Homo sapiens: one gene and its partners. The protein of the gene in region 1 interacts with the protein of each later gene in a biochemical or structural test. Each region holds a gene or a part of one and is shown on either strand. Other genes may lie near its edges.

Region 1 (3,657 bases):
AGCGGGGGAGGTTGTCTGTGTAGTGTAGAATTTTTTTTTTCCCCTAGAAGATGGGGATTATAGATTTTGCCCCCTTCTGCATATTTGACTCTCTGCAGTGTTGGAGAGAATTTATTGTTTTCCACCAGGAACATTTCATGGATGCTTTTGTTGGATGATGCCTTATTCTTTGACCATGTATTAACCAAGACCTTAGACATTATTTTATTGTTTTTAAAATTGTCTTTTCTTTCTACTGCAGGCAGATAAGTTGCTGTCACAGGATTTTGTGCAGATAATGGAGGATATTATTCTCACGCTACCTAAAAACAGGCAGATTTTACTATATTCCGCTACTTTCCCTCTTAGTGTACAGAAGTTCATGGTGAGTATAAATCTGTACTTGGAATCAGTGCCATCCTGTGACCTTTGAGTATGCTTTTATTTGTAATTACATCTTCATATCTGTGAATATACTTTATGCTAATTATTTCAAGCCTTTGGCTCTTTCTTCAGTTGATCAATTAAAGATTTGTTTTACGTAAATTAACTGACTTTTTAAGAAGGTTGTAATAGTAACTTAATTAAATTCCTCATCTTTCACTTAGTTTTTGGTGTCATGATGACATAGCCATTGGTGCTAGCTGAATTGATTCCGGTATTATTCTATATACAAAACAGAGCTTGAGTATCCTAAACTGAAATCCAAAATACTGCAGAATTTGAAACCTTTTGAGCCACGAACATGATGCTAAAAGGAAATGTTCTTTGGATTTTGAATTTTCAAATTAAGGATGCTCAGTCACTAAGTGTAATGCACATATTCCAAAATTAGAAAAAATTTAAAACCTGAAACACTTCTGTTCCTAAGCATTTTGGGTAAGGAATACTCAACCTGTAGTAACTTAGCTGCATTTTTGAGATCTTATATCTTAATTTATTTCTATCGGGTCGGGCATGGTGGCTCATGCCTGTAATCCCAGCACTTTGGGGGGCCGAGGCGGGCAGATCACAAGGTCAGGAGTTCGAGACCAGCCTGGGCAACATGGTGAAACCCCGTCTCTACTAAAAATACAAAAATTAGTCTGTTATGGCAGTGCATGCCTGCATTCCCAGCTACTCGGGAGGCCGAGGCAGGAGAATCACTTGAACCCGGGAGGTGGAGGTTGCAGGGAGCAGAGATCGTGCCACTACACTCCAGCCTGGGTGACAGAGCAAGATTTTGTCTCAGGGTGGCAGGGGGGAAATTCTGTAATGACAGATCATATATTTTGTTTTGAAGAGAGTTGCGTCCCTTACAGCAAGAGTTTATCGGACAGAAACGTATAGGGTATATTTTGAATTTGAGATGAACTCTGCTTTCATTTAAGACGACGACTCATCTTTTTCCCGCTCCCCCCCCAGAATTCCCATTTGCAGAAACCCTATGAGATTAACCTGATGGAGGAACTAACTCTGAAGGGAGTAACCCAGTACTACGCATATGTAACTGAGCGCCAAAAAGTACACTGCCTCAACACACTTTTCTCCAGGGTAAGAAGTAGGCTTCTGCTGTTGAATATTATCTCTCGAGTCCCAGTAAAACAGATGATTTCATCAATTTTCCCACCGTCTTCACTGTATAAAAGTTCGTAGTGTTTCTGGCTTGGCACGGTGGCTCATGCCTCCCAGCACTTTGGAGGCTGAGGCAGGCAGATCACGAGGTCAGGAGTTTGAGACCAGCCTGGCCAACATGGTGAAACCCCATCTCTACTACAAAATACAAAAAAATTGGGCATGGTGGCGTGTGCCCATAATCCCAGCTACTTGGGAGGCCGAGGCAGGAGAATTGCTTGAACCCAGGAGGCGGAGGCTGCAGTGAGCTGAGATTGCACCATTGCACTCCAGCTCTGGGCGACAGAGCAAGACTCCGTCTTGGGAAGAAAAAAAAAAAGATTAAAAAATAATTCATAGTGTTTCCTAAAAGGCAGGTTTAGTTGTTGACCTAAAGTTGATACTAAATGATTAACCAAGTCACAGATACACTTTTGAATAGTTTCTGAAATACTTTGACCTTAACTAGGGTTAATCCTCATTATTCACATATTCTGTATTTGTGAATTTGCTTAGTCACTAGAATTTATTTGTAACTCCGGAATTAATACTCAAGGTAGTTCAGCAGTCATTTGTGGACGTGTACAGTGTGGCAAAGAGTTTAAGTCACCTGACATGCACATTCCCAGCTGAGGTCGAAGAAAGCAATCTCTGTCCTCTTGTTTAGCTCTCATACTGTGAACAAGGGTCCTTTTCACAGTCTGCCATGTTTTTCAAGTTTTTGTTGCTGATTTCACAGTTTTAATTGGCCCCTACACATGGTGCTGAAGTGCTGCCCAATGCTGGTGGCATTGGTTGTGAGTATATTAAAGAAGGTATTCTTGGCTGGGCACAGTAGCTCATACCTGTAATCCCAGCACTTTGGGAAGCCGAAGTGGGCAGATCACCTGAGGTCAAGAGTTCAAGACCAGCCTGACCAACAGGCTGAAACCCTGTCTCTACTAAAAATACAAAAGTTAGCCAGGCATTGTGGTGGGTGCCTGTAATCCCAGCTACTCAAGAGGCTGAGGCTGGAGAATTGTTTGAACCCAGGAGGCAGCTGTTGCAGTGAGCTGAGATTGCACCATTGCACTCCAGCCTGGACAACAAGAGTGAAACTCCATTTCACAAAAAAAAAATAAAATAAAATATTTTTAAATGGAAACACATAAAACATAACTACTTTGAATCAGATAATCAATTGTATTACTCTTGTTGACAGTTATGTGGCCCTTAAGAAATATACTCTAATACGGTAAATCTTAGATATTATTATCTTCCATCTATTATTTACAATTTTTACAATTTACCATCTCTCTCATATCATGAGATTCTAAGTTTTAGACCATGTTAATGTTTCTTTTTTGCTGGTTCGTGTTTTCAAGATTTGGCAAACCAAATGAAGGTTTTTTTTATTTTTCTCATACTTATTTTTTTCTGTGCTCAGCTTCAGATAAACCAGTCGATCATTTTCTGTAACTCCTCTCAGCGAGTTGAATTGCTAGCCAAGAAGATTTCTCAACTGGGTTATTCTTGCTTCTATATTCATGCTAAAATGAGGCAGGTGAGTATAAAACTAGAACTTGCACAAATTTAATAAGAAATCTCTTTCTTTATTTTGTTTTAATGTTCTTTTAAATGTCCTGAGTTTAAGAATAAACTGTTCCTTAGTAGCCAAAGGACCTTTCATTTTGACCTCCCTCAGGTTCAATTTTCTAGCAATAAAATAGGGATAATAGTACATATTCATAACTTACAAGGTTGTTAGGAAAATTAAGATAAATGTTTAAATGAGTACTTTGGAAGCTGTCAGGCATGATACAAATGTAAAATTTTATTCTTCCCTTCCTTTCCATGTTTAATTCTCTGTTTAATACAGTAAATAGCCACATGTGGCAATTTAAATCAGTTAAAATTAAAATAAAAAGTCAGTTTCTCAATCACAGCCACATTTCAAGTGCTCAGTTAGGCACCTGTTGCTACTGGATAGTGTATTGGAATTGGAAGTACAGACACAAATATTTCCTTTATTATAGAAGTTTTACTGGACAGCACTGCTCTGGATTTTTAAATATGGCCCCTCAGCTGGCTGATTTTTCTTTTTTT
Region 2 (3,657 bases), on another chromosome or scaffold:
TTTTACCTGGCTAGTTTATGTTTGTATTTTTAATAATAGATTTTTAGAATATAATTCACATATCATGAAGTTCACTATTTTGAAGTATCCAGTGCATTGGGTTCTAGTATATTCACGGAGTTGTGCAGTCATCACCACTAATTTCTGAACATTTTCATCACCCAAAAAGAAATCCCCTACCCATTAGCAGTCACTTCCCAGTGTTCCCCCACTCCGACAGCCTCTGACAACCTTAGACTAATGTACTTTTTATTTCTATGAATTTACCTACTCTGGAAAATTCATATAAATGGAATTGTAATACAATATGTGGCCTTTTGTGACTGGCTTCTTTGACTTGGCATAATGTTTTCAAGGTTTGTTTACATTGTGTCATGTATCACTACTTCATCCCTTTTTATTGTCTAATAATAGTCCATTGTATGGATATACCATATTTTTTTCATCCCTTCATCAGTTGATGGACATTTGGGTTGCTTCTCCTTTTTGACCGTTATGAGTAATGTTGATAAAAACATCTGGATACAACTTTTGGTTTAGATACATGTATTCATTTTTCTTAGGTGTGTGGTAGAATTCCTCGGTCATATGCTAACTATATTTAACCTTTTGAGAAACTGCCAGACTGTTTTCCAAAGTGGCTGTATGATTTTACATTCCCACCAGCAGTATATGAGCGTTTCATTTTCTCTAAATCCTCACCAACACTTAATATTATTGTTTTGATTATAGCTGTCCTAGTGGATGTGAAGTGGTATCTTATTGTGGTTTTGATTTGCATTTCCCTGATGACTAATGATGTTCGTCATCTTTTTATGTGTTTACTGGCCATTTGATAATCTTCTTTGGAAAAACACCTTTTCAGATTCTTTACCCATTTGTGTGTCTTTGGAGTAATATTCACATCTTTTGCCTATTTTTACTTGGGTTATTTATCATTTTATTATTAAGTTGTAAGTGTTCTTAATATATTCTAGATACAAGTCACTTATTGTATGTATGATTTGCAAATATTTTCCTTTTTCTTGGGTTGTCTTTTCACTTTCTTGATGGTGTCCTTGGAAATACAAGTTTTAAATTTTGATAAAGTCCAGTTTATTTTTTTATTTTGTCACTTTTGCCTTTGGTGTCTGCGTTCCAACACTAATTCTGTAGCATCAGCTGGGTGTCCCCCACTTCCGTTTAGTTCTGGCACTAGCTGCCCAGGGTTGGCATCAGATCCCACAAATTAAAGGACAAGGTCCCCACTAAGAATGCCATTAATTTGGACACCAGCTGTAAATGGGGTCCCCAGGCTACTCACACTTCTGCCCTGCGGACTACAAATTCAAGACTTCCCATAATCCCCTCAAGGCTGATAGTTCACTAGAATGACTCACATAACTCACTGAAAGTGCTCTACTTGCAATTACAGTTTTATTATAAGGGATACAACTCAGGAACAGCCAAACAAGAAGTAGACACATATGGCAAGGTCTGGGGCAAGGGAAGGATGCAGAACTTCCATGCCATCCTTGTGAAATGTGGGATACAACTCAGGAACAGCCAAACAGGAAGTAGACACATATGGCAAGGTCTGGGGCAAGGGAAGGATGCAGAACTTCCATGCCCATCCTTGTGAAATGTGGGCACATCACCTTCCCAGCACATCAGTTTTTGTTCACCAAGGATGCTCCACTGAGTATCGATGAAGAAAGTTTTTATGAGGTTTCATCACATGGGCATGATTGATTAAATCATTAGCTACATGGCTGAACTTGATCTCAAGTCCTCCTCCTTTCATGGAAGGTTGGCCTGACCAGTTTATTCCTCTAAACATATAGTTGGTCTTTCTAGTGATTAGCCCCCATCCTGAAGCTACCTAGGGGCCCATGTTGCCTCATTAATGTAACAAAGACACTCCTATTTCTCAGGAAATACCACGGGTTTTTGAAACTTTCTGCTGGGTATTATGTCCAAAGACCAGGTACTCTCTCTTATAAGATGCCACAGTATCACATCACTTTGCCGAATTTTGAGTTTATGTGTGTATCACACTCAGTGACAAGAAGGAGAGTAACTTGGGACATGTTATTCTGTTTTCTGTCTTTTAAAATATGAATATGACCCTGGTAAATTTATATAATCAAGTAGGAAGGTGCCCTGGCTGCTAATAATGTTATCTGTTCCACTGTTTTATGTTGCACTCTGGAAAGTACAGTCACAGAAGCATAGGAAAACCTGAGCAGTTTCTGCTGCAGAAATACTGAAAGGGTATGTCCTCAGGGTTGTCATTTATATCATAACATGCAAAAGGAAGAGTCCATGAATAAGTAACTTTATTTCTTCTAATAGGGATTATAAGGATTATACTTAGAGATTACCTCTTAGACATCCTTCATAGATTTAAAAGTTCATTTTGCTGCTTGCTCTAGAGAAGTACCTGAATACCTAATATTAAATATGTTAGAAAAACAGAAATTTTGTTCTTAGATGACATTTTTACTCAGTATTCATTACTTTTCTTTAGAACTTTATTTTTTCTTGATTATATTTTTCACTACCTGCATATAGTACATTTATCATTCTGATTACAGAATTTATCTTAAAGACTTGTATTATATTTTGCATTATAAATATTGAGGCTTTTATTCTCAAAATGTGTTATGGGAAAGAGAAACCAATTGTGCATAATTATTTGGCAAATGGTTCAGAAAGTCAACTTTAATGATATTTGGCTTTAAGTATGTATTGCTAATTACATAAAAGCAATACAAAAGAGGAGACAAAAATGATAAGATTTGGTTTCTACTTTCAAGGGAACCAATAATGTAGCTACATGTGGTCACAATGAATAATACAAGGAAAAGAATTTGAGGGGAGAGGGAATTTTGAGGTTTGGTTTGGGACCTTTTAAATCCCACCACTTGGGCCTTGGTGCAGGAAAGCAAGTTTAGTAGAATTATCTGATATTAGATGTCATTTCAGTGTTACTCATCTAACAAATAAAACTAATAAGCAGAAGTAGACAGGTTGAAGTGCAACCAGAGCCTGTTTTTATGAAAGCTGAGGGAGAGACTAGCAAAGTCTATGTAATGTAAAGATCAGAAAAACATAACATTGTCTACTGGAATTGGCAATTAAGGTATCAGTCTTTGAGAAGCATGTTAGTCTTCTTAAAGTGTTTTGGATCGAAAGGTAGAGATAAAAGCCAAATTTGAAAAGAGGATAATAATAAATAGGAGAACAGGCATCCACTGCAACAGGAGTTTCAACCTATGCTGTATTCAGTAACTATGAATTTGTCCCTAATGACTAATATGATCATTACATCTCTGATGCCACCTGAGACCTAGGCTTCCACTAACATAAGCAAATTTATACTAGCGTCTTATTTGGAATATTGACACTAATATTCCGAACACAATTCAGATCACTGTCCCCCTCAGTCACATTCAAAATGTGAGGCTCTTCATTCTCCCATGCACTTATCCCTACACCACTATGTGTTCCCCTCTCTGAGACCCAGTCTTTCATTCCTCCCCTCTCTACCAAACTTCTCCACATACCATTTGGCATTCTACATCTCCTGTCAGGGGGGAATGTCTTCAGTTTCCTTATCCCTCATTCCTTCAAATCTATCTTTACCTATACTCTTTACCCTTAAAAGATAAAGGA
Region 3 (3,657 bases), on another chromosome or scaffold:
ATCCTTCCCAGTCATCTGTTTTATCCTAAGACTTGGAAGAGGAACAAAAATACATTTTATTGAAAGAAATTTGGATACATTTCTGATTAAGACATCCACAGCAATTTTAGGATACAACTTCCAAGTCAATTTATGGAAGCAGAGGGCTGCTCTGGCGTCCTCGATGGTGCGCATTTACTCCTCTCCACTGTTAGGGCTGGTGTGGGGAGGGTTTGAGGAGTTCTTTTTCACAGAGGCCTGTGTTTGTGGAAAAGGCCTTCCAGCTTAGGGGTTTGGTCCTCTGTGGATCTCTGGGTAATAGCAGTATGGCCTTGACTTACATGCTTCAGACAGCATCTTTCCAAACTCCACATTCTTTGGAGCAACTTCATCTTGCGGTCTCCTAGGGAAACATTTCATTAAAGTAGAAACCGAGTGAGCCCAGTCCAGAAATAGCCATGGAAATCCAGAGAAGAATATGTGGAAATGTGACCAAATCCCAAACAAATGAGGCTTATTTGTAGAATGAACATACAATTTATTGTCCAGATGGAGATGCATTTGAGCCGCCAAGAGGGCACTGTTTATAATTACAGCAAGTATGAAACCAGGTCTATCCCGGTAAAGCAGGGATGTATGGTCACTTTTCTTACTTGGAAGGAATGAGGAAATTTTCTGTGAGCTTTTTCCCCGCCTGCTGTGGGCTTCACAGTGGAGTTCTTAAATCATATCTCAGAGGTAGTCTCAAAAATGATGAGGAAGAATCAAAATTTAGGCGCTGGAACCAGGTTAAGGACATACAAATCAGTTTGAGAATTATTGTACGTTTGCTTTTTTAAAAATGTTATGACATACTTATTAATGAAACCGAAATTATTTCATGTATATGATTAGAACTGTCCAAGTCAGATCTCTTTTTGGGGGAGATGGAATTGTTTTCGTGTTTCTCTGGGTTCCATAGAAGCAATACTCTGTTGCCTAAAGTCTTTGGAAGTTGCTGATCAGTAGAAAACATGTTTACATCTTTGTTTGTAGTGTATAGAGCATGAAATCAAGAGCCTGGAAGATTTACAAGATGAATATGACTTCAAATGCAAAACCTTGCAGAACAGAGGTAAGGGTTCACAACTGAAGTGGTGCCCGTTGGCTGCAATTTTTTCTGTTCACACTAGATAACGAAGATGATTACTCCTTTCTATTTGCCGAGTATTTTATGACTCTGAATTCTTCCTTGATAACCCAGGCCAGGGCTTCTCAACATCCAATATTATTGACATTTCGGGCTAATTTGTTGTTGGGGCTGTCCTGGCATTGTAGCGTGTTTAACAGCATCCCCGACTTTTACCCACCAGATGCCAGTAGCACTACCCAGGAGCCCTCACTAGTGACAACCAAAACTGTCTCCAGAGATTGCCAAAAGTCCCCTAGGGGTCAGTGACCCCTACTTGATAACCACTGGTTATGTGTTACTCACCATATTTATTGCGCCTAGCCCACTGACTGACACAGAGCGATAGATATGTGGAGTTCCCCTGCCCTAATATCTCAGGTTTCTTCAAACGTTGCAGGGCCACGTGTATACACAGCAGATAAGCTCAGTATTTTTCTCATGTTTTAAAGCAGTTTTACTGTATTTTCTTACTGTTGCGTGTTTTTAATGAGAGTAGCAACAGAAAAGATCTCAAGAATGTACATTGTGTAGGACACGTAGGGTACTGCTGTTACTCTATTCATCATCTGGGGTATACCATGGTTCATAGGCAGAGATTATCAGTATGATTTGGGTAGAAAGTATAAGAGACAGCAACTTCAACTACCACTTCCTACTCATCTACTTCTCTTTGAAAGCTACAGCTATGCTTTGTATACATTTTTTATCTGAATTCTGTTCAGATAAAACATTTTATTATTTACATTTATTTTTATAATAATAATAACATTATTATTAATGTTATTTACATTTATTTAGGTAATTACCTGACAGTGTCTTAAGTGGCAGATACTACTATGTCTGATTTACATGGGTCACTGAAAACAAGTTTTTTTTGTTTTTTTTTTGTTTTTTTTGTTTTTTTTTGGAGACGGAGTCTCGCTCTGTCGCCCAGGCTAGAGTGCAGTGGCGAGATCTCGGCTCACTCCAAGCTCCGCCTCCCGGGTTCATGCTGTTCTCCTGCCTCAGCCTCCCGAGTAGCTGGGACTACAGGCGTCTGCCACTGCGCCCGGCTAATTTTTGAAAACAAGTATTTTGTTTCAGTGTGTCTAGTTGTTATACTTAGGACTTTTTTTCATGTTCATTAAAGATCGAAGAAAGCCAAACTTTGACCTGTCACTAGGCAGCATTTGTGTCATATTTATCCTAAATTTATATGAATCTTGGCTTTTGTTGGTTTTGTCTTCTTTATATATTTACTGGCTGTCTCTCAATTTATAGAACACGAGACCAATGGTGTGGCAAAGAGTGATCAGAAACAAGAACAGCTGTTACTCAAGAAGATGTATTTAATGCTTGACAATAAGAGAAAGGTAGTTATTTACTTTCCAGAATAGCATGCCACTTTTGTTATACACTGTAAATAATGGACTCAAAGTTTAGAAGAGAGGAAAAATTATAGCCACCTGGCTTAGAGCCCCAGTTGAGAATGAAATGATATTTGCTTTTCTTTTAAAAAATATTTTAAAATTCAGTGATTAAAAATGAATTTATTTCACTTTGTTTCTTCTATTGCCTTTAGGAAGTAGTTCACAAAATAATAGAGTTGCTGAATGTCACTGAACTTACCCAGAATGCCCTGATTAATGATGAACTAGTGGAGTGGAAGCGGAGACAGCAGAGCGCCTGTATTGGGGGGCCGCCCAATGCTTGCTTGGATCAGCTGCAGAACTGGTAAGATTCTCCAAAGCAGAAAACTGGCAGCTGACTGGCTAACCACATAAACACATAAATGTACCTTTGAGCTGTGTTAGTTGAATGGACCCTGTCAAAACATTAGTATAGAGTTTGACATAGTCCAGCTTCTGCTTACCCTGGAAACACTCCCTTGGAAAGCACAGTGTTATTCATGACTCTCGCCACGTTCAGCCACGTCTGCTTGGTTTGGAGCACTCCTGTACCATGGGGTGTCGTTTGACTGTACAAAACATCAGTGACATGGTCGTTATAGAACACATTTAATGACTTGACTCTTAATGTTTCCTTAAAAACAAGATAGCTTGAGGCATTTTTCTAGGCTTACAGAATAGTTTTTTAGGAAACATTCAGTCATCCATCCAGTAATACTTATTAAATGCCTACTGTGTGCCGGGCACTGTAGGACCTGGGCACACAAGGATGAGTGATTCTTGGCCCTTGCCAACAAGGAGTTCTCAGTGTGGAGGGGGGGATGTAGACATGGTAATAATTCGTGTGGTAAAAGTATCCAGGTGCTCTAGCAAAAGGCCATCAGAATTCTGTGGAGGACAAAGGAAAGCATCTCCAGGGAAGGTTTCATAGAGGAAGTGGCCTTGTGCTGACTCAAAAGTCACTAGGATTACTCCACGTAGATCAAGGGGAAGTGCTTTCCAGCACAGAGCACAGCGTGTGCAAAGGCACACATGTGGGAGACTGCAGGGGCTGTATTGGGTGGCTGGAGAGTGGGGTGTCCAGGGAGATGGGAAGGAAAGTGGACCCGGTGGGAGATG

What was found.
Region 2: the proteins of DDX6 (region 1) and RO60 form a complex in vitro, tested with the Homo sapiens proteins (one study listed by BioGRID).
Region 3: the proteins of DDX6 (region 1) and STAT1 form a complex in vitro, tested with the Homo sapiens proteins (one large-scale study listed by BioGRID).

What each region holds. Positions count from the first base shown.
Region 1 is NC_000011.10:118,756,629-118,760,285, reverse strand, and holds part of DDX6 (probable ATP-dependent RNA helicase DDX6), read left to right. Parts: intron 1-241; coding exon 242-364; intron 365-1,383; coding exon 1,384-1,512; intron 1,513-2,998; coding exon 2,999-3,115; intron 3,116-3,657.
Region 2 is NC_000001.11:193,062,478-193,066,134, forward strand, and holds part of RO60 (RNA-binding protein RO60), read left to right. Parts: intron 1-3,657. UniProt on the Homo sapiens protein: RNA-binding protein that binds to misfolded non-coding RNAs, pre-5S rRNA, and several small cytoplasmic RNA molecules known as Y RNAs.
Region 3 is NC_000002.12:190,997,062-191,000,718, reverse strand, and holds part of STAT1 (signal transducer and activator of transcription 1-alpha/beta), read left to right. Parts: intron 1-1,014; coding exon 1,015-1,093; intron 1,094-2,410; coding exon 2,411-2,502; intron 2,503-2,711; coding exon 2,712-2,863; intron 2,864-3,657. UniProt on the Homo sapiens protein: Signal transducer and transcription activator that mediates cellular responses to interferons (IFNs), cytokine KITLG/SCF and other cytokines and other growth factors.